4 linked regions of the Homo sapiens genome follow. The protein of the gene in region 4 interacts with the protein of the main gene of each other region in a pairwise test. Each region holds a gene or a part of one and is shown on either strand. Other genes may lie near its edges. The genes, in order: MAT2A, NRF1, NFYC and ZMYM6.

What was found.
Region 1: the proteins of ZMYM6 (region 4) and MAT2A interact in binary tests that used the Homo sapiens proteins (3 or more experiments, as listed by UniProt).
Region 2: the proteins of ZMYM6 (region 4) and NRF1 interact in binary tests that used the Homo sapiens proteins (3 or more experiments, as listed by UniProt).
Region 3: the proteins of ZMYM6 (region 4) and NFYC interact in binary tests that used the Homo sapiens proteins (3 or more experiments, as listed by UniProt).

The regions. Positions count from the first base shown.
Region 1 is NC_000002.12:85,533,718-85,543,173, forward strand, and holds the start of MAT2A (S-adenosylmethionine synthase), read left to right. Parts: upstream 1-5,450; 5' UTR 5,451-5,570; coding exon 5,571-5,661; intron 5,662-7,365; coding exon 7,366-7,443; intron 7,444-7,537; coding exon 7,538-7,660; intron 7,661-7,915; coding exon 7,916-8,028; intron 8,029-8,111; coding exon 8,112-8,255; intron 8,256-8,437; coding exon 8,438-8,656; intron 8,657-8,847; coding exon 8,848-9,030; intron 9,031-9,183; coding exon 9,184-9,317; intron 9,318-9,456. UniProt on the Homo sapiens protein: Catalyzes the formation of S-adenosylmethionine from methionine and ATP. The reaction comprises two steps that are both catalyzed by the same enzyme: formation of S-adenosylmethionine (AdoMet) and triphosphate, and subsequent hydrolysis of the triphosphate.
Region 2 is NC_000007.14:129,753,044-129,757,576, forward strand, and holds the end of NRF1 (nuclear respiratory factor 1), read left to right. Parts: intron 1-1,974; coding exon 1,975-2,138; 3' UTR 2,139-4,033; downstream 4,034-4,533. UniProt on the Homo sapiens protein: Transcription factor that activates the expression of the EIF2S1 (EIF2-alpha) gene. Links the transcriptional modulation of key metabolic genes to cellular growth and development.
Region 3 is NC_000001.11:40,693,747-40,702,422, reverse strand, and holds part of NFYC (nuclear transcription factor Y subunit gamma), read right to left. Parts: intron 6,818-8,676; exon of another isoform or gene 6,678-6,817; intron 1-6,677. UniProt on the Homo sapiens protein: Component of the sequence-specific heterotrimeric transcription factor (NF-Y) which specifically recognizes a 5'-CCAAT-3' box motif found in the promoters of its target genes.
Region 4 is NC_000001.11:35,021,479-35,030,154, reverse strand, and holds part of ZMYM6 (zinc finger MYM-type protein 6), read left to right. Parts: intron 1-8,676. UniProt on the Homo sapiens protein: Plays a role in the regulation of cell morphology and cytoskeletal organization.

The sequences.
Region 1 (9,456 bases), on a different chromosome or scaffold from region 4:
CTGTCTGTGCAGCTACCGGACCACCTGCAAGGAGAGCAGATGACAGCATTCCCACGTATCTCCTGCCCCTAGAGTAAAGGTGAAGATCCATACAGACCACAGTCATGGTACCACCTCCTCTTTAGGTCTGATTAATTTGCTAGAGTGTGCCGGGCACGGTGGCTCATACCTGTAATCCCAGCACTTTGGGAGGCGGAGGTGGGCAGATTACCTGAGGTCAGGAATTCAAGACCAGCCTGGCCAACATGGCAAAACCCGGTCTCTACTAAAAATACAAAAATTAGCAGGGCATGGTGGCAGGCGCCTATAATCCCAGCTACTCGTAGGCTGAGGCAGCAGAATCACTTGAACTCAGGGGTGGAGGCTGCAGTGAGCTGAGATCTCGCCACTTCACTCCAGCCTGGGTGGAAGAGCAAAACTCTGTCTCAAAAAAAAAAAATTTTTTTTTTCCGCTAGAGTGGCTCATAGAACTTAGGGAAGCACTTGCTCATTTTTACTGGTTATTTTAAAGGATACAAACAAACAGCCAGATGAAGAGATACATAGGGTGAGGTCTGGGAGGGTCCCAAGTGTAGGAGCTTCTGTTACCATGGAGTTGGGGTGTGCCACCCTCCTGGCACGTGGATGAGTTCTTATTCACTTTCCTGTCAGCCTCCACCTGTTCAGCTCTCCAGAAACTCTCTGAACCCAGTCCTCTCAGCATTCTTTGTCCCAGGGTATGGGGTAGGACCCTCTCTGGAATGAGGGTCTTATGACCCATGATCAGAAGGGCAGGGCAAGATTAGAGTCCTGCCTTGGGGCAGGTGAAAGAGAAGCAGGAAAAAGTCAGAGAGATTCTGTTTCCTGAGGCCTGCTCCTGAGTCCTAACACTCTCAACATTATAACGAAACACTGTATAACAAGGGCTATGGGAGTTATGAGCCAGGAACCATGGATAAAAACATATATAAATTCACACATATATTAACATCACATCTATCAACGAGGTTGAGCATTTTTTTCATATGTTTATTGCAATTTGCATTTTCTCCTTGGTGAGCTACCTATTTTATGTTGTATATATTTTCCCACAGTAAAAGAGAAGGAAATGATTTACAGCTCTACATAGTATCCTGGAGAGACAGTCATGAAAATTGTTAAGAAAAAAAAAATCCATGTTTCTCTGAATAGTAAGATGTGTGCGTGTGTGTGTTCACAGAAAAAGGAAAGGGAGGATATAAACCAAATTGTTAATATTAACGACCTCAGGGAGTATGCAGTATTTATTGTTTGGCTATAAGAAGGGGCATGAATTTAGAGGTCAGACCAGGCTCAAGGCCCTAGCTCCACTACTGATTTGATGTGTGACATGGACGAATAACATGCCAGTTTCTTCATCTGTAAAACAGGAAGAGAAATAGAGCTGTTGTGAGTAGTAGATATTACAACAGTGCCTGTCACAATAAAGTGTAGCTATTGTCATCATATTATTATCTCCTTCAGTGTCTTCTTCACTGTACCATATCTATTCTTCCATTCAGGACTTCTTTATTGGGACTGTAAAAAGATTTAAGTATCAAAAGAGAAAAACATAGAAATAAAAACAAAATACAAAAAGCCTAATAATGAGGGGGTTCACATAGTACTTGTTTCTGATCCCACTAGAACTAGCTTGCCTCTGAGGCCATCCGAGATATCTAAGCTTTGGCCCTAAAGAACTGCCACAAATTTGGAGACGTGGCCTACATTTCTTTCTTCTTGGTCTGTCTTCACATAGAAGGTGCTCTTAAGACACACAGCCTAGGAACCTCCTTCTCAACACCTCCACACCTTCACTTGCTCTTTGCTATCCCTACTGTCACCCTCCTCTTTTCTCCTGCCACATCAACAGCTTCTTGCACTGCAAATGTTTTCTGGAACTCTCCCCATGACTGACAGGCTAATAAGGAGTTATTTTATTTGCTGTTTGAGTCACAAATACCATTTTTATCCAATCCCAACTTTGCCTTTTTTGTAGGGTTACTGCTACATTAATGTTCTCTGGCTTGAGAAATCTGAAGCCTTTAGGCAGTGATTAGATTTTTCCTACGTGCTTTACAACACTTCACATTCAACAAATTCATTAACGATAAACAGGAAATAAACCAACAATTTCTCCTGGTTTAGTTCACCCTTAGGACACGCATCTATGAAATCAGAAATCTTATTCCTGTCAGAACAGGATGGCCATGTGCTTCCCTGTTAACAAAGAAGTCTTAATTTTATTAATTACAATGCTTACGACTAAAACAAAGCAGGACCTCTTTCCATTGATTTCACATGATCGCCAGAGTCTCTCATTTCTCTGCTTCCTTCTGCCATCTTTTTTTTTGAGACGGAGTCTTGCTCCGTCGCCCAGGCTGGAGTGCAGTAGTGCGGTCTCAGCTCACTGCAAGCTCCACCTCCCGGGTTCACATCATTCTCCTGCCTCAGCCTCCCAAGCAGCTGGGATTACAGGCGCCCGCCACCACGCCCAGCTAATTTTTTGTATTTTTAGTAGAGATGGGATTTCACCGTGTTAGCCAGGATGGTCTGGATCTCCTGACCTCGTGATCCACCCCGCCTCGGCCTCCCAAAGTGCTGGGATTACAGGCGTGAGCCACCGTGCCCCGCCCCCTTCTGCCATCTTTATATTCGTTCATTTTCCGTTTCCTTCCCTTCCTTTCTTGTCTCTCCCTCTTGAACATTTCTAAGCACCTTGTGTGTGCCAGGCATTCAGTAACAAAGCTTGAGCAAAACAGCCCACCTTCTCATTATCATGGAGCTTACAAGCCTAACTGGGAATTGGAGACATTCATCAAATAATCACCAAATCTATAATTTGAAACTGCACTTAGTGCCATGAAATAAAACACAGGCCCCTGTGACAAATCTGTGTAGATGAAGGCTTCATCCAGGAAGTGGTAGCTGAGCTGGAGTGAGAAGGATAAGGAGTTAGCCAGGCATCTCCCCACATTTAGAGCGCCGAGTGGGCAGAGACCAGGATTGTTATAGCATTTGCTCCTGGGTCTGACTCACAGATGTGCTCATAAATATTTGTGGAAGGGAGGAAGGGACAATACGAATAATATAAAATAAATGAAAATGTGTCCTCCTTTGTTTTGATACTATGAAATTAATAAAATTAACTGCTACTAACTAAAAAATCCAAGTAGAACACAGAAAGGAGAGTGTGGCACAAGGTAAGGTTGCAGAAGTAGCAGCCAAATCACACTGGGGCCTTGAGTATGTAGAGATTTTAGTCCGTATCCCGACAGCAATTGAAAGCCACTGAAAAGTAATTCACAGCAAATATAGTTAATTTTTTTACAGCTTACATTAAAACAAATTATGTACTAGATACTGTGCTAAAGACTCTACTTGCACTATTTGAATCCTTGAAACAATCCTATGATGTACTATTAATATTCCAATTTTACAGAACGAGGATACTGATGCATAGAGAGGTCGTGACTCCAAACCCCTACTCTTACTGTATTACACCTACACACTATTCACAAGTGAGAGAAGTAGGTAAGCAACTATGTACAGCTAAATCTCATCTCCTTGGCAGGCCTAGCCCCACTGTGGAGTTGGTAGCACAGGGGTATCAGGATTTAATGAGCCAATCATTGACTTTACGCTCCTTGTTCTGACTCCCTAATAAAATAACCTTCTAGTTATATTCTGGCTTCCCATATAGATTTTTCTGCTGGGAGATAATGCACTGACCAGCCTACACACGCATTTTGTTCCAGTTGACAATTTTATTACACATTGTAAGTTAATAAATTGGCATTCTCCTTTAAAAAATAACAAAAAAATTTAATAGTCTTATACAGTTACTTTCCCATGAAGGGTTAGCTTGAAAAGTAAAAAGCAACGAATAAAAATATCATCACCTATTGTCTCTTTTGTGGTCGAACCTTTTCTTGCTGCCTGCTTTGAGCGACCGTGGATGTGGTCACTGAGTCTGGGGAGGAGCCCTTTATCTTCTTTGTGGATGCCCCCAGCACAGCCCAAGTGCTTCCTTTGTTTCCCACTGAGCCTTTAGCAAATCCCACCTTTCCTCCTGCACCGACGGAGAGGATTGTTCTTGGGAATGCACCTTGTTCTACTGCCGCCAGCAGTAGGCAGCTGGAGACTGTTACTAGGGGTCTCCTTCACCTCCCCAGCGTAAAGTACATCCCATGCTAGGAGCAGGCCGTTCCCTGAGAACCTCATTAAACCCGGCGTTCTTGTCACGCGCTCCGCTCAGGGCCACCAGGCCACCAGCCCGACCAGACCTGCACCGAGGCCCAGCCCCAGAACAGGCTGCAGAGACCCCCGCCCCCAAGGCGGGCTCCCTCCAAACGGGACTCCATACTCCTTGCTGGCTCAAGTTTTGTTTCGCTCTTTTTCCCTGTAATTCCTTTATTGGGCAAAACTGGGACAAACGCAGGTGGACATTTTAAAGTGAAAGCTTCATGAAACAGCCCATTCCACGCCGTCAAGAGATCTGCTTAAGCACATTCAAGGGAACGAATAGCCCCCACCCACCAAAAAAGAAATGTTCGTTCCATATTCTCCTGAACAGAGGATTGAAACATCGATTCCCCCCCCCTTCAAAGGAACAGGAAGGCCACGGGGCAAGGACGGACTTGGGAGCGGCCTCCTTTCTCTCTGGAGGGAAAGGCTGGAGCGCTGCCTCCACTTTTAAGTCCACGAACCACGAAGGGTGAGGATCCCTCAGAAACTTTAGCGCAGGGGAGCGGGCAGGAGGGCGATTGTTTAAATCGATGGCAGCACCTTCATTAATCTGCTTTCCGGCCATCTTCAGCAGAGCCATTCACCAGGAAACGACTAGAAGGTGGGCCTGCGCCCCTCAGATATCCCGGGGCCGGCAACGAGCCGGGCAGGGACGCCGAAGGAAGGCCGTGAGGAGCCCTCGCTGGCCGGCCAAGATGGCCACCTTCACATGGCCGACCGCCACCGGCTCCCTGCCACCCGGCATCTAGAGGCGGGACGGCCAGAAAGACCCCAGCCGCAGCACAAAACCTCCGCGATTCCCGCCGCCTCCGCTGGGGGACGCGACCTCCGGGAAAGCTATCCCGGCCAACGGTCGGAAGGGAGGTGCCATGTCACCGCACAGGGGAGCGGGTCCAGCAAGCCCCAGTCGCTTTTTCTCCCACATCAAACAAGGAAGAGCAATCCCCCACGTCTCCTCGCGTCTGCATTTTTCTCCTAGCTCTAGCGGCTCAAGATAGCTGAACGGTCTCTGGAGGGCCGGATTGCCACGGCACCTCCCGCGGCCGCGCAGTGTGGTTCAGCCCGGACTCCGCGGGGCGAGCTGCCCTTCCTCCCCCGACCCCCGCGCAAGTGGTGCATTGGCGCGCGGCGCCGAGGGGCGGGGCCCGAGCCGGGCGCGCGCGGGCGCTGCTCTATAAATACCGGGCCGCACCGCCCGCTGCTTCGTTCGCTCCGCGCCGCCCGCCTGCTACGAGTAGAACGCTGTCCGCAGCTTGCGCATTTCGCAGCCGCTGCCGCCTCGCCGCTGCTCCTTCGTAAGGCCACTTCCGCACACCGACACCAACATGAACGGACAGCTCAACGGCTTCCACGAGGCGTTCATCGAGGAGGGCACATTCCTTTTCACCTCAGAGTCGGTCGGGGAAGGCCACCCAGGTGAGGGGACGGCCTGAAGCGAAGCGTGGGGCGGGGCAGAAGGCAGCGCCAAGGTCCGGCTGGCTGCGGCCGGCCGGTGGTGGGGCCCGCGCGGGTCGTCCTCGTCCGCCGGGTGATGGAAGAGCGGCGACCGCGCGCTTTCCTCGTGGCGCCGCCAGGGCCTGGCGCGTGGCCGCCGCTCCTCTTCCCCCTCCCCTCTCCACCCTTCCCTTCCCCCCTCCCTTTTCATTCGGTCGCGCGCCTAGGCATGCGGAAGGTTCCAGAAAACGTGAAGGGCGGGGGCTGTGGTCGCTAGTGAGTTCTGGCCGGGAAGGGAGGGCACTGTTAACCCCTCCCGGCCCTGCCGTCTGACAAACCTGGAGTGGGCGACCCGCCCCGCGTGCTCGCGTCCGGCCCTCGGGAGCGCGCGCCCCGCATTGCAGCGGCGACCACGTGTTTGCCGCATGTGGTATCTGGGCGAGGGGGAGCCGTGAGCCTCCCCGGCTGTCCTGGCCCTCAGTTTGAGGGGTGGGGGGCCTATGCCTTGGGACGTCGTCTGGCTCCACTGCCTCAGTGGTTAGGTCTTGACTACACACTGGAGAATACGCACATGCCCTTCGGCGGATATGGCCTTGCCTCCAAGGTGACGGCCTCTGACTAAATATAGCTCATGTCCAAGAAGGCAGTCCTTATTTGGACCCCTTGTGAAAAGGATGGGAAGCATGAATTAGGAGCTGCCATTGCTTTGGGTTCGCATTTAAAGTCTTCGGTGCAGGGTTTTACTTGAGGCTTTGTCCGCTCAACCGCCATTATGGGGATCAATTGGCACGTGAAGGAGGAGTAAAGCTATATTTCCAGGAACTGAAAATCTCAGCCTGAGCATATCGGCTAGTAAAGATGATTATTTGGCTCTTTTGGCTGTTTCTGCCCTTAGGATGACCGCAGTAGTTATCTATCTGGTGGCTTTAGGGTCTGGTCAGTTTACTGTGCCCATGATGAAATCCCACAAGTAACTTAGTGGTATGAGAGGACAAACCCAGGATCTTGATGAGTGCTGAAGGTTAGCTGTTACACCAGTTAGTAGTAGACCGAAGTTCAGAGCCTGCAGTCTGGCTTCCACATTATGTTTGGATTCTGTTTTAGGCGGTTATAGAAAATTCAGAAAAACGAACTTGAATTAGGGAGATATTTGTTCTCCCTCCTAACAATAGATGACAAAGCAGGGAGACATGGATTCGGAATACGTTTGAGCATCTTCTACACTGTTGAGCTTTTGTTTCCTGCGCAACTCCTAACAGCAAAATCAGATAATTGCCATTTTAGTCAGAAAATGCTTTTCATTTAATTGTTTAATCGAATTATCTTGTTGCTCATTATAATTGGTGTTCCTTAAGATTAGGGAAACTGGCCTACCTGTGGCCTCAGTTCTACCAGACTCCCAGGTGCAGAGGGGTTTGGTACAGTTGTGGAAGTGAATATGATATAGGGCAAATTCTGTTCTTTAAAGGATATAGGACTAACAGTTCACCTTTCTGGTGATTAGATTTATAATGCAAACTTTGAATTTTAGGAGGAAAGTGCAAACACAATGAATTAAGATGTATTAAGCATGTTTTTTAAAATCTCCAAAGATTTTACAGATAGTAACAGGGAGGGAGCTTGCATACATACATACATACTTTGTTTAAAGTTAAAGAAACTGAGCCAGGAATTTCTCTTTTCCAGATAAGATTTGTGACCAAATCAGTGATGCTGTCCTTGATGCCCACCTTCAGCAGGATCCTGATGCCAAAGTAGCTTGTGGTAGGTTCAGAATGTGCTTATCAACTGGTGGAAAGATAGCATAAAAATTATTTTTATAGAAGTGATGTTTGAGTTGAATGTCTCTTTTTATTAGAAACTGTTGCTAAAACTGGAATGATCCTTCTTGCTGGGGAAATTACATCCAGAGCTGCTGTTGACTACCAGAAAGTGGTTCGTGAAGCTGTTAAACACATTGGATATGATGATTCTTCCAAAGGTGTGTTTTAATGATTTTGCTCATTTTTTTCTAGGTAACAGCTGTGAGGTTTGAAGAAACTCCTAGAATGTTCCTGCTAATCCTAAACTCCAGTTGTATCTTACTATACACTAAGCCCTATTCTGTTCATTCTCTAAAAGGTCCGATGGTTTAGGTATATTTGATTTCTTCAGCAGTGTTTAGAATTCCAGATAATTGCTGTAAACAGCAGGTATTTCTAGGACGTAAACAAGATGTTGTGTTTTTTGCTTATAGGTTTTGACTACAAGACTTGTAACGTGCTGGTAGCCTTGGAGCAACAGTCACCAGATATTGCTCAAGGTGTTCATCTTGACAGAAATGAAGAAGACATTGGTGCTGGAGACCAGGTATCTTGGTGTAGAGGCTGTTTTAATCTCTTCTAACATTAAATTCTGGAGCTTGATCACATTGGTGACTTTTCTTTCTTTAGGGCTTAATGTTTGGCTATGCCACTGATGAAACTGAGGAGTGTATGCCTTTAACCATTGTCTTGGCACACAAGCTAAATGCCAAACTGGCAGAACTACGCCGTAATGGCACTTTGCCTTGGTTACGCCCTGATTCTAAAACTCAAGTAAGTGATGATCATAAAGCTTGGTTGTCTCATTTATTACATCAGCACAGAAGATCCATAATTTTGATAATAGCTAACTGGAAAAAATAGCATTTGTTTTCCTATATTGTAACTTCAGGTAGAGAAACAAATACAAAGTTATTGTTTGGTGTGATGTTCTGATGACCTGTGTTGCCTTCAAGGTTACTGTGCAGTATATGCAGGATCGAGGTGCTGTGCTTCCCATCAGAGTCCACACAATTGTTATATCTGTTCAGCATGATGAAGAGGTTTGTCTTGATGAAATGAGGGATGCCCTAAAGGAGAAAGTCATCAAAGCAGTTGTGCCTGCGAAATACCTTGATGAGGATACAATCTACCACCTACAGCCAAGTGGCAGATTTGTTATTGGTGGGCCTCAGGTAATGTCATTTTGTTGCATTTTTCTGGATTTTTGATGGTTACTTAAAATTTTGGCTACTACATTTTTTTCAGGCTTTCTGAAACCTACATGTGAATCATCGGAGGATATTTGCTGAATGAATTCAGAATAGGCAACCTAATCCACTTGGAAAGCACTAGGCGTAAAGTAACTTAAATCCTGTAATTTCAGGGTGATGCTGGTTTGACTGGACGCAAAATCATTGTGGACACTTATGGCGGTTGGGGTGCTCATGGAGGAGGTGCCTTTTCAGGAAAGGATTATACCAAGGTCGACCGTTCAGCTGCTTATGCTGCTCGTTGGGTGGCAAAATCCCTTGTTAAAGGAGGTCTGTGCCGGAGGGTTCTTGTTCAGGTATACACTCTTTATATAACGAACGATTAAAAGTCATGTAAGTGGGAGGGTATTTAGTAGTAATCTACTTAACTACTTGTTTTATACCAACGTATTATACAAGTATATGGGTCTTTGCAATCACTGATTCTTACGACATTTGAATCCTTTTAGGTCTCTTATGCTATTGGAGTTTCTCATCCATTATCTATCTCCATTTTCCATTATGGTACCTCTCAGAAGAGTGAGAGAGAGCTATTAGAGATTGTGAAGAAGAATTTCGATCTCCGCCCTGGGGTCATTGTCAGGTAAAGATGGTAAAGCCTGTTGCTAGTCAAGTATTGAGGGTGTTGGGTGTGTGTGTATATACTTAAGGCTGAGGAGGTGAAGGTGTGAAGGAAGACTCCTCAAATGGGAATATATTTTAATTCCTGGAACAGTTTTGAA
Region 2 (4,533 bases), on a different chromosome or scaffold from region 4:
AAATGCTTACCCCTTATCCCTAAACTGGCAAAACTTACTCTTAGAAAAAAGTTACATACAATTTAACATTGGAAAAGAAAATCTTATATTTGATTTTTTTTGCATTAGAAAATATTTTGACAACCCTTTTTAAAATAATTTTTATCTTCATCAAAGTAGCCTATGGTTTAAATGTCAAAAAGAACTAAAAGGGGCCTCTCTGGGTCAGTTTCTCAATACAGTGGGTGAACCTCAGAGGCCCAGTCAGCAAAGGTCTTTGGGTCTGGATGTTGGGGTTGGTCTAATCAATTAAATTCAAACTTTCCACTCATTCTCATTTTTAGCCTCATCCCTCTTTCTGCCGTAGCTAGGCCTCTATGTGCTGAGCCCTGTGTGAGCATAGGAGTTGCCCCTTCCACTTCTCTGTTCAATCAGAACCATTTCACATTTGCTTTGCATCTTCCCAAAAAATGTTGACATCCCTCGGTTATATCCTTTTTTCCTCATTCACTGTAATTCTAGTTTCAGAAGGAAGAGAGATTGATGTATATGTTAGTTACTGCCTTACTGGGAATCCTTTTTTTTAATGTATTATCAGCTTTCCCTTTTTAGGCAGGACTACCTTTATGGAGGTTATGTGCTTCTTCCTTTAAGCCATCCTTTCTACTCTGAAATAATAGTGATATTAGGGAGTAGCTGGGGTCTTTTTTTTTTAAGTTGACCCCAAAATGTGTTTTTACATTTTACTGGTGTGTGAAATCTAGAAATCAGGAAACAAGTGACCTAGGCTTTAAAAATAAATAAATAAATAAAATAAGCTTGACTATGAAGGAAGGCACATAGACGGAGCAGTGGCCAGAAGACAGGATAGGAGAGGGACAAGATTTTTCTTTTCAAGCTGAGAGAGACTTAAGCATAGGCAGAAAGAGGGTTGAAGAAGGCAGTGTAGCCAAATATCAAAGAAAAATAATGGTGGCCTGTTCTGAGAGGGAGAAGACAGGCCGGGGACATTCACACCTGACGGGCCTGTGCTTCCTAGATGCGGAGGCAGGCAGGGCCCTCTCACGGCAAGCTGGGAAGGCCCTACCCTAAGGCATGTTTCCACAATTTCTCTAAACTTTTCTTTTCTGATAGTCTGTTTTAAAAAAATCAAAATGGTCAGGGTTGGTGGTTCACGCCTGTAATCCCAGCTATTCAGGAGGCCAAGGTGGGAGGATCACTTGAGGCCACGAGTTCAAGACCAGCCTGGGCAACACAGCAAGACTCCATCTCAAAAAAAAAAAAAATTATATTAGCCAGGCATGGTGGCACACGCCTGTGGTTCCAGCTACTCAGGAGACCGAGGTGAGAGGATCACTTGAATCCAGGAGTTCGAGGTTGCAGTGAGCTGTGGTCACGCCACTGCACTCCAGCCTAGGCTACAGAGCCAGACCCTGTCTCTTAAAAAAAAAAAAAAAAAAAGTTAAAATGGAAAAAAGTTGATTTCCTAGAAGTAGAGAGTAGAATAATAGTTACCAGAGTCTGGGGAAGGGTTGGGGAGGGGGGCAGGAGAGGTTGGCCAGCAGGTGCAAAGGAAGAATAAGTTCTGGTGTTCAGTTACACAGTAGGGTGACTGTAGCGAATAACAATGTAGTCTGTGTTTCAAGATAGCTAGATTTTGAATGTTGTCACCACAATGAATGATAAATCTTTAAAGAGATTAATATGGTAATTTTCTTGATTTGATCATTCTACAGTGTATACATGCATTGAAACATCACATTGTACCCCATAAACATGAACAGTTACTATATATCAATTATAAATCTTAAAAATTAATGAAAAAAATTTTAATGGGGTGGGAAAGAGATGTCTTTGTGCCTGGGCCATGGGTATGTGATCACCTGAGGCTGGTGACCACGATACCTCAAAGGCAAGACTTGGGTGCCCCCGTCCAGCCAGCATCTGGGAACTTGAGCCTGAGCCCCACCAACGGTCTTCTCTTTGTCTCTCCAGGCCTGGTCCAGATCCCTGTGAGCATGTACCAGACTGTGGTGACCAGCCTCGCCCAGGGCAACGGACCAGTGCAGGTGGCCATGGCCCCTGTGACCACCAGGATATCAGACAGCGCAGTCACCATGGACGGCCAAGCTGTGGAGGTGGTGACATTGGAACAGTGACATACAGCCATATTATGGCATCGTTTTCTAGTCTACTTCAAAATTTTTTACACGTTTGCAGAGGTGCAATCAAATGGAATTAAGTCTCTCGACTTTGGAAGGAAAGTTTTGTTAACCTTTTTTTTTTTAAAAGGAAGAAAGCGGATTTTGGAATTGCATTTTTTAAAGCACCACTCTTGATTTTCTGGGATTGGTGAAGAAACTGCATTGTCAATTTCACTGTCCCAAAAAAGCCAAATTGTGGCAGGACTTCTTTCTGCGGAAATGTGTGTGTATACTTATGTGTGTGTATGTGTGAGTGTGAATATATGTATATGTGTACATATGGACATACACATTTACATATATATAAAGTATATATATACATATATATATATATATATGTATGAAACCCGCATGGAATTATCTGTATGAAATCAAGGTGCGCTGTGGAAACAATAATTCACCCAGTTTAGTGGGTGGTAGGGTACGTGGCCAGACACAGTCACCCAGTTTTTGTTCATACCAGGGTCATGCGTTGAGCTACTGACAAACTCAGGCGGAGGTGACCATGCCCTTCACCAAAGCTGCCTCCCAGTGGCCACACAGAACTCTCCCTGCTGGACTCACCTGAGGAAAGAGGCTCCAGCATGGGGTGGGTCAGAGATGTGCTTGCAAGGTCCAGGGACTGCGTGGTCTGCCAGCTGAGATGCTCCTCGGGCTGGCCCAGGTGCTGACCTTGCCACAGGCAGATGAATGTCTTGAAAGCTCCCGGGCCTCAGCCTCCCATCTCCTCTCCTTCCCAGGAATCCTTGATCTCATGACTATTAAAATGTTGCTCTGGTTTTAAGGTCAGTCCTGAATTGCTCGTATATATGAACTGAAGGTAACCGAAGTATTAGGGGTTTGAGGAGTGCGTGCGTGTAAGTGTGCTTGTGTGTGTGCGTGCATGGTGGGGGAGAGGATGGGAAGGGGGCGGGGGCAGTGGAAGGGAAAGGAAGGAAAGAAAAATCGTCCTAGACCAGGATACACCCGTGGGAGCAATTTTCTCTACTGTCTGTAGCTTCACAGAGGAGGCGCTGGAATGAACAAGAAGAGACATCTGGTCTGTGGCCACAGCACCCTGAACGCCCCTGATCTTGTGTGATCTTGGAAGCTAAGCTTGGTTGGGCCCGGTCAGTACGCGGAAGGGAAGAAGGGACACCTGGCCATAGAAAACAGCTGAGGGTGTTTGCTGTGTTCCTGGATCAGGCCCTGCTTCAGAAGGGACTCCTGGAGGCCCATGTTCCTTGATGCAACCTCGTGGCCCAGGCCGGGAGCAGCTTGCCTCCTCAGAGGTGTTGACTATCTGGGTGTTCTTGGTAACCGTTAACTCTGTCTTTCTCAGCTGCAAGCCCTGAGTCTCCAGTAGCTGAATTCACCTGACTTTTCAACAGGCCAAATCTCTGAACCTTGAGTACAGGGACAGCTCCTCCTCCCTCCTCCCAGCTCTCCCCATGTGTGTGATGGTGTATTTAATGTGTTTTTTTAATGCGACATTAAAAGATTCTCCACGTCTTGCTCAACCTTTGAGAGAAGTTTCAGATTCTTGTATTTGCTTGTTTTATATAAAACTATCTAATGTTCTTTATATGTTCTTTTCTGTACGTAATGGGGGGAGGGGAGGGAAATTTACATATAAATAGTCCTAGTTCTACAATTTGTTATTTTTTTAATTATTATTTTTTATCGTCATTGTGAAGTTGTCCAGGGACTTTAAAGTCCATGTTCCTTTGTGGTGAAATAACCTCCAAATAGTTTGAGAAGTTGCCAAGACGAAGAAAAAAGCAAAACCCCAGTAGCAGAGCATGGATTCTGTGTTGTTTCCCATTCTGTCTTTGACTGCCTCATTCAATAAATAGTTAAAAATGTGGCAACAGGAAGTGGAATTGTTCATCTCTATAGGAGCTCTTGGCTTCTTAGGCAAAAGGAACTCTATCTTGGGGCAGCTCGTTCTGCGTTTAAAATGCAGTCCTACTCGAGATCAGCGGTCTCCGACCTGTGCCACTCCGACGCTGGGGACCTCCGTAAAGAAGACACTGAAGATTGCCCAGAGCCCCCTGCGAGCCCCATCACCAGACCTGCTCCATTTCATACATTTCATATATAACGTGTTTTCTTATACTGACGTTCTGGGGAAAAAATCGTATTTAAAAAATCCTAGGCCGGGCACAGTGGCTCCCGCCTGTAATCCCAGCACTTTGGGAGGCCAAGGTGAGTGGATCACTTGAGGTCAGGAGTTCCAGACCAGCCTGGCCAACATGGTGAAACCTTGTCTCTACTAAAAATAGAAAAATTAGCTGGGCATGGTGGCGGGCGCCTGTAATCCCAGCTATTCAGGAGGCTGAGGCAGGAGAATCGCTTGAACCCAGGAGGC
Region 3 (8,676 bases), 5.7 Mb from region 4:
TACAGTGAGCCAAGATCACGCCACTGCACTCCAGCCTGGGTGACAAAGAGAGACTCCCTCTCGAAAAAAAAAAAAAAAAAAGTTCTGAAGATAATCCCCAAAAAAGGCCCAGAAACATTCTGAGCAATGACCACGTCATTAGAATAAAGGAACATTGCACTGGTGCTCAGTAAATGGTTATCAGTGAATGAAGGAATGAAATAAACTAATAAATGGACCTTAAGGAGATGACAAATTCTGAATTATTTGTTTTTTGAAAATAAGTTATATTCTCCAAAGCATAAATTAAGACCAATAGATGGGAAATTATTCTGCAAAGACTCGCTTCAGCTCTCAGAGCTGTCCAAAGATGACACAACTTTCCTCAGAAGCTATGGATGGGGTTGTTAGGCACGGGCTGTTTGAACACTTGACAGGGATGTGTAAAGGCAACATGAGAGAGAGCAGTCATGTGCAGCAGCAAGAAAAAAAGCCCAATCTTTACAGCTAAACAGATTTAGATTTTAATCCCTCCTCACCACTTTTTAGGTGAGTGACCTCGTGCTAGTTATTCAACTCCATCGAGGCCAGTTTCCTGCACTAAAACATCTTGCAAGGTTTTAGGGCTTAGGAAAATTTCATTTGTTCAATAAATACTTAAATTATAAGCATAGCCATTGTACTAAATAAGCTCTGGGGATTCTAAACAAGACACAGTTCCTGTCCTTAAAGAGATTAAAGTCTACTGTAACAAACAGGAAAGTTAAAATAGGCAATCATGATGCTGTACATTAAGAGTTACAACACATGCAAATGCAAAATGCTATGGGAGGACATAAGCATAGCACCTAACCCAGGGCTTACGTAAGTTTTAGGCTGGTCAGAGAAAGCTTCTTAGGAGAATTAAAATCCTAAGAATAAAAACCAAGATAGACAAAGTGAACTGCATGTGCAAAGGCCTGAAGCTGACAGAAAGTATTACATTCCTGTTTGGTATAGCAGCAGCCCAGAAGCAAGAAGCTAGAAGTAGAGTTAGAAAGGTAGGCCGGGCGCAGTGGCTCATGCCTTTAATCCCAGCACTTTGGGAGGCCAACTGAAGTCAGGAGTTTGAGACCAGCCTGGCCAACGTGGTGAAACCCCATCTCTACTAAAATACAAAAATTAGCCAGGCATGGTGGCAGGCACCTGTAATCCCAGCTACTCAGGAGGCTGAGGCAGGAGAATCCCTTGGAGGCAGGAGAATCCCTTGTACCCAGGAGGCAGAGGTTGCAGTGAGCCAAGATTGCACCAATGCACTCCAGCCTGGGTGACAGGGCGAGACTCTCTCTCAAAAAAAAGAAAGGTATACAGGGTTGGACAAAGCTAATATACTAAAACTTTATTCTAAGGACAATGATAAGGAACTAATGCGTCTTAAACATTGGACTGGCACAATCAGTCCCACGTTTAAAGTGTAATTCTGATTTTCCCAGCCCCATGTTTAAGACTGTTTAGTTCCTTACCATTGGGTACAGTGTGGAGAATAAGCTGGAGAAGGGGACACAGTGGGAGGATGGCAGCACTCTAGACCACTAACGTGGAAAACAGGATGCTAAAGTTATCTGGTGACTGGATGCAGTAGTGAAGACACTGAGTTCAAGACCAGCCTGGACAACAAAGCAAATAATTCAGAATTTGTCATCTCCTTAACGTCCATTTATTAGTTTATTAAAAATTAAAAAATAAAACAAATTTTTTTGAATTCAAGACCAGCCTTGAACCTCATAGAGTGAGACTCCATCTCAAAAAATAAAAAATAAGCCAGGTACGGTAGCTTACACCTGTAATCCCAACACTCTGGGAGGCCAAGGTGGGAGGATCACTTGAACTGAAGAATTTGGGACTAGCCTGGACAACATAGCAAGACCTCCTCACTACTAACAATAAAAAAATTAGCTGGGCAGGCATGGTACTACATCCCTGTAGTCCCAGCTACTCAGGAAGCTGAGGCAAGAGGATGACTTGAACCCAGAAGTTTGAGGTTGCATTGAGCTATGATCACACCACCTCACTCCAGCGTGGGCAAGAAAGTGAGACCCCATCTCAAAAAAATTAATTAAAGTAAAATAAAAAATAAAGAAGATTCAAAAATCACTAAGACCCAGTGGTTAATAAGGCATGTAGAATAACAACACTGTGCTTGATAAAAAGCATGTACTCAAAAAATGGTACCTGCTACTATTATTATTGTTATTGGGCATTGGATTAGATGACCTTTGAAATCACATTCATCCTTAAGAGTCTACGTTACCTTGAAGATGTATCTTGTTCTCAGAAAAGTCCTTTCCCACGATTACCAAGCTATCTTATACAAAATGATTCATTTTTTTATTCATAGACTACACCAGAACTGCTCAACTGGGCTCCACTACACACCAGTCATAGCATGAAACGTTTATTAGGTGTTCTCACAAACAGCGGTCCATGACCAAGTAAGTCTGAGTAACACCGCGTAATGTATCTTCCCTCTTGAAGGGTCATAGGCAAATAAGCACCAAGGCTCTGAATAATAATTCTGCAGTAAAGAAAGGCATTTCACTTTGGCCATTTTTTGTCAAGGATCCTCTTTTTATCCCCAAAGGACACTGATTAGCACTACACAGAACTAATGTTCAGTGGAAGAGCTTGGGAAATGCTACTCTAAACCAACTTACAAATTTTAGTGGAGTGAAAAGACTATAGGCAACTGTATTCTGATAACCTTCCAAAATGGTTAGAGTTTTACACACATTATGGCGTTTTCCTTTCTAACTTAGTACTACTGAAAATGACATTAAATACCACCATAAATAGCAATCCTTTGCCTCCTAAGTGATTGCCAACCAAGCATTCTTGGCTTCTTAAAAGGCCCCAACTTCGTCATTTCATAATGAGCAAATTCTATGCTACTTACTTTCAGGGTACAGTAATAATTTTTAAAACAGTTTAAAATGACAAGGATGTCAACTGTGCAGATAATGTGTACTTTATTAGCCCCTTCTCTCTTCTCTTTTAAAAGGAACAGATCATGCCAGTGTCAAAGGGATATATCTTCTTAACACTGGGCAAAGAATCTCAACTTCATAGAGATTACTGGACAGTTTACAGCTCTGGAGGCCAAGGGCAACAGTAATTTGGGATTGTGAAAACCTTCAGTACTTCAGATTTAAGCCAATGACATGATACAAAATATTCTATACTCTAACATCATTTCCTATGAGTCATCTCATTCCTTTTTTGGTTTTGTTTTGTTTTTTTTTGGAGACAGTCTCACCCTGTCGTCAAGGCTGGAGTGCAATAGAGGCGCGATCTCGGCTCACTGCAACCTCTGCCTCCCGGATTCAAGCGATTCTCCTGCCTCAGCCTCCCGAGTAGCTGGGGTTACAGAGGCCCACCACCACGCCCAGCTAATTTTTTGTATCTTTAGTAGAGATGGGATTTCACCATGTTGGCCAGGCTGGTCTTAAACTCCTGACCTCATGATCTGCCCGCCTCAGCCTCCCAAAGTGCTGGGATTACAGGTGTGAGCCACGGCGCCCGGCCCATCTCATTCCTCTTATTAAAACACTTTGAAACACTGCTCAAGATCACTATTTATGGTTCATACTCATGAATGTATTTAAGAATAGGACAATTATTGAATCTTATTAAGAATATACAATTGACTTTAACACTTGAACCCGGGAGGCAAAGGATATACTATTGGCTTTAAATGAAGGGTATTCAGGCTGGGCGCAGTGGAGGCTGAGGCAGGCAGATCACCTGAGGTCAGCAGTTCGTGACCAGCCTGGCCAACAAGATGAGACCCTGTCTCTACAAAATATACAAAAATTAGCCAGGTGTGGTGGCACGCACCTGTAGTCCCAAGCTACTCAGGAGGCTGAGGCAGGAGAATCGTCTGAACCCAAAAGGCAGAGGTTGCAGTGAGCCGAGGTCATGTCACTGCACTCCAGCCTGGGCGACAGAGCAAGACTCCAGCAAATAAATAAATGAATGAATGGCATTCATTTAAATAGGACACCTTATATATAGTACCTTGAACGTGAATTTTTTTTTTTTTTTCAAAGAGGGAATCCCGTTCTGTCACCCAGGCTGGAGTGCAGGGGCATGATCTCAGCTCACTGCAGCCTCCGCCTCTGGGTTCGAGCGATTCTCCTGCCTCAGCCTCCTGAGTAGCTGGGACTACAGGTGCCTGCCACCATGCCTGGCTAATTTTTGTATTTTTAGTAGAAACGGAGTTTCACCATATTGGCCAGGCTGGTCACAAACTCTTGACTTCAGGTGATCTGCCAGCCTCGTCCTCCCAAAGTGCTGGGATTACAGGCGTGAGCCACTGTGCCTGACCAGACATGGATATTTCAACCTTTATTTTAAACGTATTCTACTGGAAACATTCAAATGCAAAGATTAGACTCTAGTTCCACTCTTTAAACTACAAGTTTATACAATAGAAAGCTCTCATGAAGTACTGGATGTAGAAGTAATCTATCTGGAGATCTGAAAATAACAAAATGGAAAATACAACTCCAATACTGAAAATGAGTACAGGTGCTGTCTCACTGCTATCAGGTACATCACTGCTAACACATGGAGAAGTGTGGGAAGGGTGCAACAATTCCTGCAACCTAGCAAAATTTTCTGCAGGCAGAGAGATTTTTCCTGAACCATTCCACAATACTGTCTAACTGCTTACTTCAAAGAAAACGTTACTCAAGTGACTACAAATCACACAAACCAAACCAACGGTCCTACTTCAACTGATAATTTGTACAGTTAGAAAAATTTTAAATGACTATAATGGAAATCTCTCCTTCTGGTCAGAATGAAAACACCAGTTGTTCCGAATTTAATCATCATTGCTATTTGTCAAATATGAAGAAGTTTTCATCGCATCGCAATCATTACCACTCAACACTTGGGGATGAACAAAAGAGATCAGGAAACAATCTTTCCCTGAAACAAATGATCCTACTACTTTGTGCATTCAAAAGTAAGACTGACCTCACACTGGTCCACTGAAAATCAGCTCCTAAACCACAACAGCACAACTAAATTAGGTTACTTCATGTCAAGTGGTTGCTCTCCCATTTGGAAATCTTACTGTATATTGCAGAGCAGACAATTACAAAAGGCCTCACCCCTCCTCATCAAGGAAGCTGTAACGGGCTGAAAGGACAGATTTCATGCTGTTCCAAAATGAAAATGTGTTCTCCCACTTATTAAGGTCCACTAAGTGATAGGCATCTACCACACGCTATTATATTCATTTCTCATAATTACCCTACAGGTAGGTATTATTGTCGTTATTTTACAGAAGAAGAAACAAGTTAAGAACCTGCTCCAGCACAGAGGGTAAATGCACTGCAGAGACAGAACTCTTCCCTTGGTCTGACTCCAATCAGCAACTAATACTGTCCTCTCCCATAGGCACTTTTTGGCCAAAGTTTTAAAAATCCATTTCCTCCTGCAATTAATCTACTTACATTATATTGAGTGCTTTGAGTCTCTGCAGGAAAACACTAAAATGACCTTGTAGCCTTCCTAAACTGTGACAGTGCATGCATGAAAAACTGAATAAACAAAATGAAAAGAAAGACTGTAAGACATCAGATAACTCACAACCAGTTTCCTCTGAGAACAAGAAACAGAATGGAAAAGAACAACTTACTGGCAAAGGAATATTCTTCCTGGTTGTATGCCTGAGGCCAGGATTGACCTTAAGAAGGTCATTTGTGACCCTAGTAATGTCCTCTGCCATTCTCATTCCGGTGAATGAAGTAAACCTGTCACTTAAAGTCATCTCTGCCATCAAGTCAATGCGTCCACAGGAGAGGCAATGCTATCCAGTGGAATGAGCACCTATCTGGAAATCCAGTGATCTGGGCAAGATTTGGCTCTGCCCTTGCATAGCCAAGTGACCCTGTCAAGGTCATCTCACTCTTTTGGAGCCTCAGTACAAAGGACACGCCTGAAAGAACTGAAGTTCGCTTCCTGAGCTAAGAAGCCAGGACTTTTTTTCTTTTCCCATAACATTCTATGGTGTCAACACAGTGTTTAAGAGTAAGGGCTTCATTTACATAAGAATTAAGAATTACAAATCTGTGGCTGAGCACTGTGGCTAACACCTGTAATCCCACCACTTCAGGAGGCCGAAGAGGGCGGATCACGAGGTCAGGAGTTTGAGACCAGCCTGGCCAACACAGTGAAACCCCGTCTCTACTAAAAATACAAAAAATTAGCCAGGCATGGTGGCGGGCGTCTATAATCCCAGCTACTCAGGAGGCTGAGGCAAGAGAATCGCTTGAACCTGGGAGGCAGAGGTTGCAGTGAGCCAAGATCGCGCCATTGCACTCCAGTCTGGGGAAACAGTGCGAGACTCTATCTCAAAAAAAAAAAAAAAACAGAATTACAAATCCGTGTCTGAATCTGGGCTCTGCTACTTACTGGCTGTGAGAACTTAAGCAAATTACTTTTCAGTTTCCTCACACGTAAAAATGAGGGTGGCTATATTATCTACCTCATAGTGTATGAGAATAAATATACATAATACATTTATATCCCAGCTGGTACAATGTAAGCAAGCACTCAATAAAAGTAGTAACTATATTATCCCTGTGTTTGATTCACAGATCCTAGTGGCTCAGTACTTTTGAACTAAAAGATATAAATTTCAAAATTACCTCAAAAAGACACCCAGCATAGCCTGGCTGGGCACGGTGGCTCACGCCTATAATCCCAGCACTTTGGGAGGCCGAGGTGGGTGGATCACCTGAGGTCAGGAGTTGAAGACCAGCCTGGCTAACATGGTGGAAGCCCGTGTCTACTAAAAATACAAAAATTAGCTGGGTGTTGTGGTGCACACCTGTAATCCCAGCTACTCGGGAGGCTGAGGCAGGAGAATCGCTTGAACCCGGGAGACAGAGGTTGCAGTAAGCCAAGATCACACCACTGCAACTCCAGCCTGAGTGACAGAGTAAAACTCTCAAAAAACAAAACAAAACAAAACCCAAAACAAGACTCCCAGCATAGCTCCATAGCACAGAATGGGTTTAGCCCATATATGTTTACAATTCTGTGGTATGAATCCTCATTTCGCTTTGCCTTCATTTCTCTGAAAATAAAAGGGGATAAAAATGCCTTGTAAAATCTTCTCTAGTACAGTTTTGGGATTTTTATTTATTTTTTGGGAGACTGAGTCTCGCTGTGTTGCCCAGACTGGAGGGCAGTGACACAATCTCAGCTCACTGCAACCTCTACCTCCCGGGTTCCAGCAATTCTCCTGCCTCAGTCTTCCGAGTAGCTGGGATTACAGGCGCCCACCACCATGCCAGGCTAATTTTTGTAATTTTGTTTCATCATGTGTGCGAGGCTGGTCTCAAACTCCTGACTTCAAATACCACCTGCCTCAGCCTCCCAAAACGCTGGGATTAGAGGCGTGAGCCACTGCGCCCAGTCTCTAGTAGTTCTGACCAAAGAAAAAAATGTGTAAGTATAAATGAGATAACAGATTTGTCATAAGAATTAAATAAGATGCCATGAACACAGCCTATAAAGTATAAATCTTAGTATGATTTCTGCCTGAAGAAAAAGCTGAGGTTCACAAGTTTTCAACATAAACTCAGATCTACTGAGATTTCCTGAGAGTTCAAGATTTCTAGAGTGGTCAATTCCAGATCTTAACAAGGTGGCCATGGGTATAAGGGGCTAACATGGAATGAAGGTGGTCACCAATGTTGAAGGGCAGGTTGCTCCAGAAATGCCTGCTGAAAAAAAAAAGGTGTACATATACACTCATTTTTATCACCTTGTCTAGTCTTACTAAAAACGAAACTAAGTTATAGATCTACAGCATTCTTCATATTTGGTTAACTTGATGACTGAGCCAAATGAGGCTGAAATGACCAATGTACAAAATACATGGCAAACCCTATTTTCACTTGTAGCTTTGCCTCTATCTTCCACAGTGAAACGTTATTGTAAACAAAAATGAGGGAGGGCTTCACCTAAGCACATCAAGACATAAAGCAATTAAGATTTCCAACTCACTGGTCTCCTCTCAAACCCTGATTTAAAGGTTTCCATGCAAAATTGGAACTGCAAATATTTTGTCCTATCCAGTCTTAATTTTACACATTGTTCAGGATAAGCATATCCTAGAATCAATATCCCACAGTCTGAAGAAAGCACTAGGCCTTTGAATAGGTCCTGGTATTTGGGGACACCCTAAGGAACTGGTGATGCTTGAAAAACCTCTCCAGTGAGCTCTTTACACTAGGCACTTGGTAGTTCCTCGCCATTTGGCATAAATTACCTCCACATACAGAAAGACTATCTGCAATATTCTGAAGCTTGGTTTTAAGGAATGCAGATTCTTCAAGTTTCTGTACATATTTTTCCCCATTATCTACCTGGATTCAGGAAAAAATGCAGCAATTTACTTGGTAAATCTTCCCTTTCACAATAGAAGCCAAGGGATATGATTTGAATACCTAGCTGAAGAACCCATATTCTCTATGGTTACAATTCTGTGGTCTGAATCCTTAAGCAGCACAAGAAATTCTTAAGAATTATAGTCTTCCATTTTATACACTCTAAACACCCAGAAATCAAAGTAGATGATCCACTTGGAAATACAAAATTATCTGGAAGTTTCATTAGTCAGGTTTATGTTGATAGCTG
Region 4 (8,676 bases):
CCTGGCTGGTTTTTTGCTCTTTGAATGAAAGCTATAACTACATGATTTTTTTGTGTGTGGAAGGAAAGTAATATATTTACCATTTTTCCATACTTGTCACTTAAAAAAAATTCTCTTGTATCTGGTAGTACTTTCCTTTATTCTGTTAAGAATTTGTGGTCTGTGCTAGTCTCTGGGGATCCAGGATTGAGCAAAGTCAGCTTAGTCCCTTCCCTTGTAGAGCTTATATGTTAGTAGAGGAGGCAGAGATTACAAAAGTATTGGTCAAGTAATATATATAATTACAAACTATGACAAGTACTCTGGAAGAAAAGCCTAAAATGGGGAATCTGACCTAGTTTTGGTTGTGGTCTGCCTGGGGATGGCTAGGGAAGGCCTCTCTAAGGGAAGGATGTGTAAGCTGAATTATGAAGAATGAATTGATTAGGCAAAGGGTATGGAGAAGAGTATTACAGACAGAGGGAACTGTGAATAGGAAAGCCCTGAGTTGGAAAGATGCATGGTTCTTTTTAAGACCTGCAGGAACAGTGAGCCTGGAACAGAAAAGGTATGAAAATGGTGATGATGATAATGATTAAAACAACAACAATAAAAATAGCTGGCATTAGTATATCAGTATGTAGTATATATTATATCATAATCATATGTGACATTATTAACTTAATATTTATATATGCTTAAGAGTGTGTCAGGCACCATTCTTACCACCATATTATTATCCCCATTTTACAGATGAGGAAACCAAAGCTCAAAAAAGCCAAATAGTTTACCACAGATCACAGTTAGTAGTAAATGACAAAGACTGGATTCAAATCCAGGTGGTCAGACTCCAGAACTTGTGCTATTCTGCTTCTCTATGATAAGGCTGTATATATAGTTTAAGGCTGGATTATGTAGGACGTAGCAGACCTTGTTATAAATTTTGGTTTTTATCCTAAGAGCAGTAGATAGCCATTATAGGGTTTTTTGTTTTTGTTTTGAGATGGAGTTTTGCTGCAATGTTGTAATCTTGGTGGCTCACTGCAACTTTCACATCCCGGGTTCAAGTGATTCTCCTGCCTCAGCCTCCCCAGTAGCTGGGATTATAGGCGCCTGCCACCACGCCTGGCTAATTTTTTGTATTTTTAGTAGAGACGGGGTTTCACCATGTTGGCTAGGCTGGTTTCAAACTCCTGACCTCAGGTGATCCACCCACCTCAGCCTCCCAAAGTGCTAGGATTACAGGCGTGAGCCACCACACCTGGCCAATTGTAGGGTTTTAAGTGAGAAAGTAAGATGAAACAGATTTGTGTTTGGAAAGATCATTCTGGCTACCCCATAGGGACCCAGAATGGAGAGCACGGAAATCAATGTGGAGGCTGGGCACAGTGGCTCACGTCTGTAATCCTAGCACTTTGGGAGGCCAAGGCAGGCAGATCACGAGGTCAGGAGATCGAGACCATCCTGGCTAACACGGTGAAACCCCGTCTCTACAAAAAATACAAAAAATTAGCTGGGCGTGGTGGTGGGCGCCTGTAGTCCCAGCTACTTGGGAGGCTGAGGCAGGAGAATGGCGTGAACCCAGGAGGCGGAGCTTGCAGTGAGCCAAGATTGCGCCACTGCACTCTAGCCTGGGTGACAGAGTGAGACTCCGTCTCAAAAAAAAATAAAATAAAATCAATGGGAGAGATGAGTTAGTTGTTTTGGCAAGGAATTTTTCTTCTGGGACAGTTCTTTCGCTTTACACTCAAAGTTATTGACTTTATTGTATCAGCAAAGCAATTATATTTTAAAATAATAAAAAACAATTTTATTTTTCACACCATCTCACAGGCAGTATCATTCCTTTTTTTTTTTTGAGATGGAGTCTTGCTCTGTCACTCCCAGGCTGGAGTGCAGTGGCGCGATCTTGGCTCACTGCAACCTCCGCCTCCCAGGTTCAAGCGATTCTCCTGCCTCAGCCTCCTGAGTAGCTGGGATTACAGGTGTGCGCCACCACGCCTGGCTAATTTTTTATATTTTTGTTAGAGACTGGGTTTCGCCATGTTGGCCAGATTGGTCTCAAAACTCCTGACCTCAAGTGCTCTGCCCACCTCGGCTTCTCAAAGTGCTGGGATTATGGTTGTAAGCCACCATGCCCAGCCACAGGCAGTATCATAAGAAGACAGGGATGTCAGGTAGGTTTTGTTTCACTCATGAACTCTATGCCTTGCTAGAGTGCTGGGCTAAGAAGAGTTCTGAGGTAGTGTCTGTTAGATGTGGAGTGGGGGATGGTGGCATCCATGCTACTTGTTTTCCCTCCAGATGGTAAATTCTTACTCTTTCTCTGCCTAAAGTAACCATTTCTTTGCCAGGTTTTGTGGTTTTTAGCTTTTAAATATTTTTTGTATCTGACCCATGATGTTCTTCTATATTTCATTATTTCTCTCTCTCTTTTTTTTGTTTCCTTTTTTTGAGACAGGGTCTCACTTTGTTGCCCATACTGGAGTGCAGTGGTGTGAGTATGGCCACTGCACTCTAAACGATCCTCCCATCTCAGCCTCCCAGGTAGCTGACCACAAACATGCTCCACCACACCCAGCTAGTTTTTGTAGAGACGGGGTCTCCTTATGTTGCCCAGGCTGGTCCTGAACTCCTGACCTCAAGCAATCCTCCTGCCTTGGCCTCCCAAAGTGCTGGGATTACAGGCATGAGCCATCATGCCTGAACTATTTCATTATTTTTCATTTGGACTTTTATAATAGTTTCCTACCTATTCTCCTTCCTTCAGTCACATATCCCATCAAAACACTCTACAGTGATGCCATTGTACTGTATAGATCGAGTGATATTTCTCCCTTTAAAGACCCTGTTTCCTCCAGTGTGATGAAGCAAAGATCTTTCAATGTGACATCCAAACCATCCATGTTTAGGCCTTTGTTTCCCTCTCCAGTGTCATCATTCATTGTTTCCACCTTTTCAAATCTATGCTGCTGCCAGCTATTTGCAGTTCACTCAAAACTATCTTCTAAAACTCGGTTGCATTTTATTTCCCTGCCTTTGCACCTGCCATTTCTTGTGCCGGTGGAAGAAGAAATAAGCTAGGTAGGCTGGCAAAATTTTGTCCTCTTTTAAGATGAAGTTTCTCACTCACAAGTAGAATGAGCTGTTCTCTCTCTCTTTTTTTTAATTGTATAGTGCAATCACTTTTATTATGGTATCTACAGGTCAATGAATTTTGTCTTCATACTGATTATACTAATCTGGCCATCTCCTCCTCATCTTTCATTGACACACTAGACTGCAGTCTCTCTGAAGTCAGAAATTGGTCTTATTGACCTGAATCTCCAATTCCTAGCACAGGATTTGGCACAAAGTACATGTTCAATAATTGGAATAAAAGAGCCTCTTTCACATATAAGGAAGCTGAACCTGAAGGAATAAGTGACTTCACCAGTGTCTCATGGTAAAACTGGGATACAACAGTTTGTTGTTACTCCAGATGCAATATTTCTTTCATTATACCTTGCCTATACACTTAACAAATAATGTGCTTTAAGTTAATTCAATGTTCTTTCTGAATATAAAAATTGTGATAATGGAAATCTCCCTAGCAGCTTAGATTGTATATTTAAGAGGGTAGGAACTGCTCAGTTGTCTTTGGTTTATATTAATGTTTTCAGGTGAATAGGCTATATTTTTTCATGATTGAGGGTATAGACTATGATTGAAAAGCCAATTGAACAAATTGTGTATTATTTTCTATGTTGCATTGATGAATCTCCTTTGAATATTGGAAAATAAGAGATAAATAAAAATGTTTTTTATTTTCTGATTTTCTAAGAGTTTGTTCTGGATATTAAAATTATAGTTGAAGGCCAGGCGCGGTGGCTTGTGCCTGTAACCCCAGCAGTTTGGGAGGCTGAGGTGGGCAGATCCCTTGAGGTCAGGAGTTCAAGACCACCCTGGCCAACCTGGTGAAACCCTGTCTCTACTAAAAATACAACAATTAGCCGGGCGCGGTGGTGGGCGCCTGTCATCCCAGCTACTCAGGAGGCTGAGGCATGAGAATCACTTGAACCTGGGAGGCGGAGGTTGCAGTGAACTGAGATTGCGCCACTGCACTCCAATCTGGACGACAAAGGGAGACTCCATCTAAAAAAAAAAAGTTGCAGTTTAGTCCTTATATTCATATATGTTGAGTATTCATATTCATTCAGTGAGTTTTTATTCCTGCCTGCTGTAATCCATAATACTTGAACATTGTTGTGAGCAGTTTACATACCTTAATCCATTCGATGCTCACAACCCTCAGTTAAGTACTGTTTCTCTTCCCACTTTACCCATGAGGAAGCTGAGTCCTAGATAGTAACCCGTTAAAAGTCACATAATTAATAAATGGTTGAGTCAGGATTTGGACTCCAGCAGTCTGATTCAAGAGCCCAAACCCTTAACCAGGATGGTAAACTGTATTAGTTACTTTGTTTTCAGAAAGGCTACAGAGATGAAAAGATAGGACTTCTGCTCTCAAGGTAATTGATAGTGTAATGGAGAGAAAAGTTATGAGAATGAGAGAAGTAATATTTGTTGAGTGACTGTGCCTTGTGAGAAGCTATGCTAAGCATATCTTATGCATTCTCATTTAAACCTAATTGTCTTCAAACTTGTATGCTTTCTGCTGCTTTGTGCCACCTTTTTTTTTTCTTTCTTTTTTTTTTTTTTTTTTTTTTGGGATGGAGTCTTGCTTTGTAGCCCAGGCTGAAGTGCAGTGGCGCCATCTCGGTTCACTGCAACCTCCACCTCCTGGGTTCACGCAGTTCTCCTGCCTCAGCCTGCCGAGTAGCTGGGATTACAGGTGCCCACCACCACACCTGGCTAATTTTTGTATTTTTAATAGAGACGGGGTTTCACCATGTTGGCCGGCTGGTCTCGAACTCTACCTGCCTCGGCCTCCCAAAGTGCTGGGGTTACAGGCGTGAGCCACCGTGCCTGGCCTGTGCCACCTTTTGTGCAAATACAAAATCAAGGCCATGAGTGGTGGCTCATACCTGTAATCCCAGCACTTTGGGAGGCCGAGGTAGGTGGCTCACTTGAGGTCAGGAGTTCAAGACCAGCCTGGCCAACACGGTGAAACCACAACTCTACTAAAAATACAAAAAAATTAGCCAGGCTTCGTGGCACATGCCTGTGATCTCAGCTACTGGGGAGGCTGAGGCAGGAGAATCACTTGAACCCAGGAGGCGGAGGCTGCAGTGAACAGAGATTGCTCCACTGCACTCCAGCCTGGGCAACAGAGCAATATTCCATCTGAAAAAAAAAAAATACAAAATCACAGTCTTAGGTAAGTGCTTTAAAATTGTGTGAGGTGCATTGGGAGCATAGGGGAAGGAGCCCTAAATCTATATGGGAAGGAGAGGAAGGTTTCACATAGCAGGTAGCAATTGTATTATAAAAATTGACTAAGAGTTTCAGACAGAGAAAATATAGCAGAGAAAATAGCCACGTCATGGAGGGGTGAGAGAATGTGGTGTGTTTAATAGTTGAGTATCAACAATAAAGTGGGAAAAGATAATAGATTTAAAAATGGTTAGGTAGGATTGATCAAATTTAGAGATTGTTTATGGGTGTGAAGGTCAAAGAGGAGTCCAAGGATACTTACAGGTTTTGGGGTTTATGGTGATACCATTTACTGAGGGGTTAGAACAGGATTTTGGAGGAAGTACTAAGTGCAGTTTGAGGTCTGTTGTGTTTAAAGGGCTTGTGGGACATTCAAGTGGTAAACTGCACAAGGAGGCATTTGCACATAAAAATCTGGGATTTGAGATTAGAAAGTTATCTACTTGGAGATGTAGGGCTTCCAGATAAAATACAGGATGCCAGGTTAAATTTGACTATCAAATAAACAATGGTGATTTTTACTATAAGTGTATTGCTTGCAATACTTGGAACATAATTATTCTAAAATAGCACTATTTCAGCTATAGCTAAAAAGAAGGTTTCCTTTTCCTGTAAGATAGCAGGACAGTTTGCTGAGCAATTTGTAGGTAAGGTGGAGGGGGCTGAGGGATGTTGAGGGAGTTCTTAGTTACTTGTTTTTACCTGGTGCAATTGAAACATCAATGAGCAGGAAAGATGTGGAGTTGGGACTCGTGAGCTATGAAGGTTTAGAAAAATTACTTTGTGAGGTAAAAGAAACTGGTCAGGGAAATATAACAGAAATACTAGAAAAATTTTAGAAATTGAGTTGATAAGGCAAAGAAATTTTTATTGAATCTGGCCGGGCGCGGTGGCTCATGCCTATAATCCCAGCACTTTGGGAGGCCGAGACGGGCAGATCACGAGGTCAGGAGATCGAGACCATCCTGGCTAACACGGTGAAACCCCGTCTCTACTAAAAATACAAAAAAATTAGCCAGGCATGGTGGTGGGCGCCTGTAGTCCCAGCTACTCCGGAGGCTGAGGCAGGAGAATGTCGTGAACCTGGGAGGCGGAGCTTGTAGTGAGCCGAGATCGTCCACTGCATTCCAGCATGGGTGACAGAGCGAGATTCTGTCTCCAAAAAAAAAAAAAAAATTTTATTGAATCTTAAACACTCATTTTGGTAATTTGAAGATGTATATAATATTTTTAATGTCCTCTTCATTTTGCAAGTGTCAATAAATATTGTTATTTAAGTATAATGTTTAAGAACATGCACTTTGGATTGAATAGACTTAGATTCCTTCATTTAGCAAGTATTTATTAAATGCCAGTTATGAAACTAATAAATAAGTATGAGAACTAGCATTTTGGCCAGGTGCAGTGGCTCACGCCTGTACTCCCAGCACTCTGGGAGGCCAAGGCGGGCAGATCACCTGAGGTCAGGAGTTCGAGACCAGCCTGACCAACATGGAGAAACCCCGTCTCTACTAAAAATACAAAATTAGCCAGGCGTGGTGGCGCATGCCTGTAATCCCAGCTACTGGGGAGGCCGAGGGAGGAGAATCGATTGAACCCTGGAGGTGGAGGTTGTGGTGAGCTGAGATCCGCCATTGCACTCCAGCCTGGGCAACAAGAGCGAAACTCCATCTCAAAAGAAAAAAAAAAAGAACTAGCATTTTGTGTACATATCGTGCTTGCTTTTGACTAACTGTAAGATGTCATTCTGTATACCTTATTTATATTAAGTCATTTGCCCCCTCCCTCCCCGTTGGCCCTATGGGTTAGGTAATATTATCTTTATTTTACAGATAAAGAAATTGAAACTAAGAAAGATTAAATAGCTTGTTTAGGAGTCAAGATCATATCTGTTTCTGTCTGCTGTTAGAACCTATAGTCATTACTGTTATGTTGACTGTGTTGGGCGATTGGGTATACAGGGGTGAGAAAAACAGGTATTGTCCATAATGGATGTGATCTTTTTAGTCTAATGTGTGTGTAGGGGGAAGGATGAATGTTAAGCATTAATCAAATTATCCAAATAAGCAATGAAATGATTTACTATGGTAACTGCTGTGAGAGAAAGGAGATGGGAGAGACTACTGCAACAGGGGAACTTAATTTCAGTTGGACCAGAGTTTGAATTCATTGTAGTAATTACTTTATATTTTCACATCTATGACAGTGCTATCTTGGGTTTTAGAACAGAGAGACTGGCTGGGTGCGGTGGCTCATGCCTGTAATCCCAGCACTTTGGGAGGTGGAGGTGGGTGGGTCACCTGAGGTCAGGAGTTCAAGACCAGCCTGACCAACATGGTGAAACTCTGTCTCTACTAAAAATACAAAAATTAGCTGGGCATGGTGGTGAGTGCCTGTAATCCCAGCTACCCAGGAGGCTGAGGATCACTTGAACCCGGGAGGGAGAGGTTGCAGTGAGCCGAGATGGCACCATTGCACTCCAGCCTGGGCTACAGAGCGAGACTCCGTCTCAAAAAGAAAAAAAAAACAAAACAGAGAGACTGGGTTTGATTCCCATCTGTGCACGTAGTCTCTTTGTGACCTTGGGCAAGTTGCTGAACATCTCTTAGCTTCACTTTCCTCATCTATAAAGAAGGCATATCTTATAGAGAGCACCTCTTTGGGTGCTCATAATACATATCATGGGAAGTGGTGAATTAATGCAATGGTTCCTAGTTTTTGGCATTTAATAGTCTAAAGAAATTTCTAAAGTAACTTTGGAACTAACATAGCTACTCATTTATTTTGCTATGTGTGGAGAGATTAAAAATACAACTGCCATTTATTACCATCATTGATTCAGAAAAGTAAGACTTTTTAAAAAACTTCCTGTTTTGAAATATGTAAGGGTATTTTAACATTAAAAAAAAGGATGGTTGCAATTTCAGAATAAAGATAGGCATTTACATTTTAAAAATGTTTCATGATTACATTTTGTTTTAAAACGTTTTAAAGAATGTGGTAAGAATAAATAGGATTTTGTCTGTGATGATTTTATGTATAATGAGCAGATTGCATTGACACTCTTGTATCTTTTCTGCCATTAACAGAAAAGGCAGCTTGTAAATCTAAAATGATTGAAATCCAAACTCTAAATCATTCAGATTTAACTTTTCTTTTTTTCTTTTTCTTTTTTTTTTTGAGGCAGAGGCTCGCTCTGTTGCCCAGGCTGGAGTGCAGTGGCACAATCTTGGCTTACTGCAGCCTCCTCCTCCCGGGTTCAAGTGATTCTCCTGCCTCAGCCTCCTGGGTAGCTGGGACTATAGGTGTGAGCCACCACGC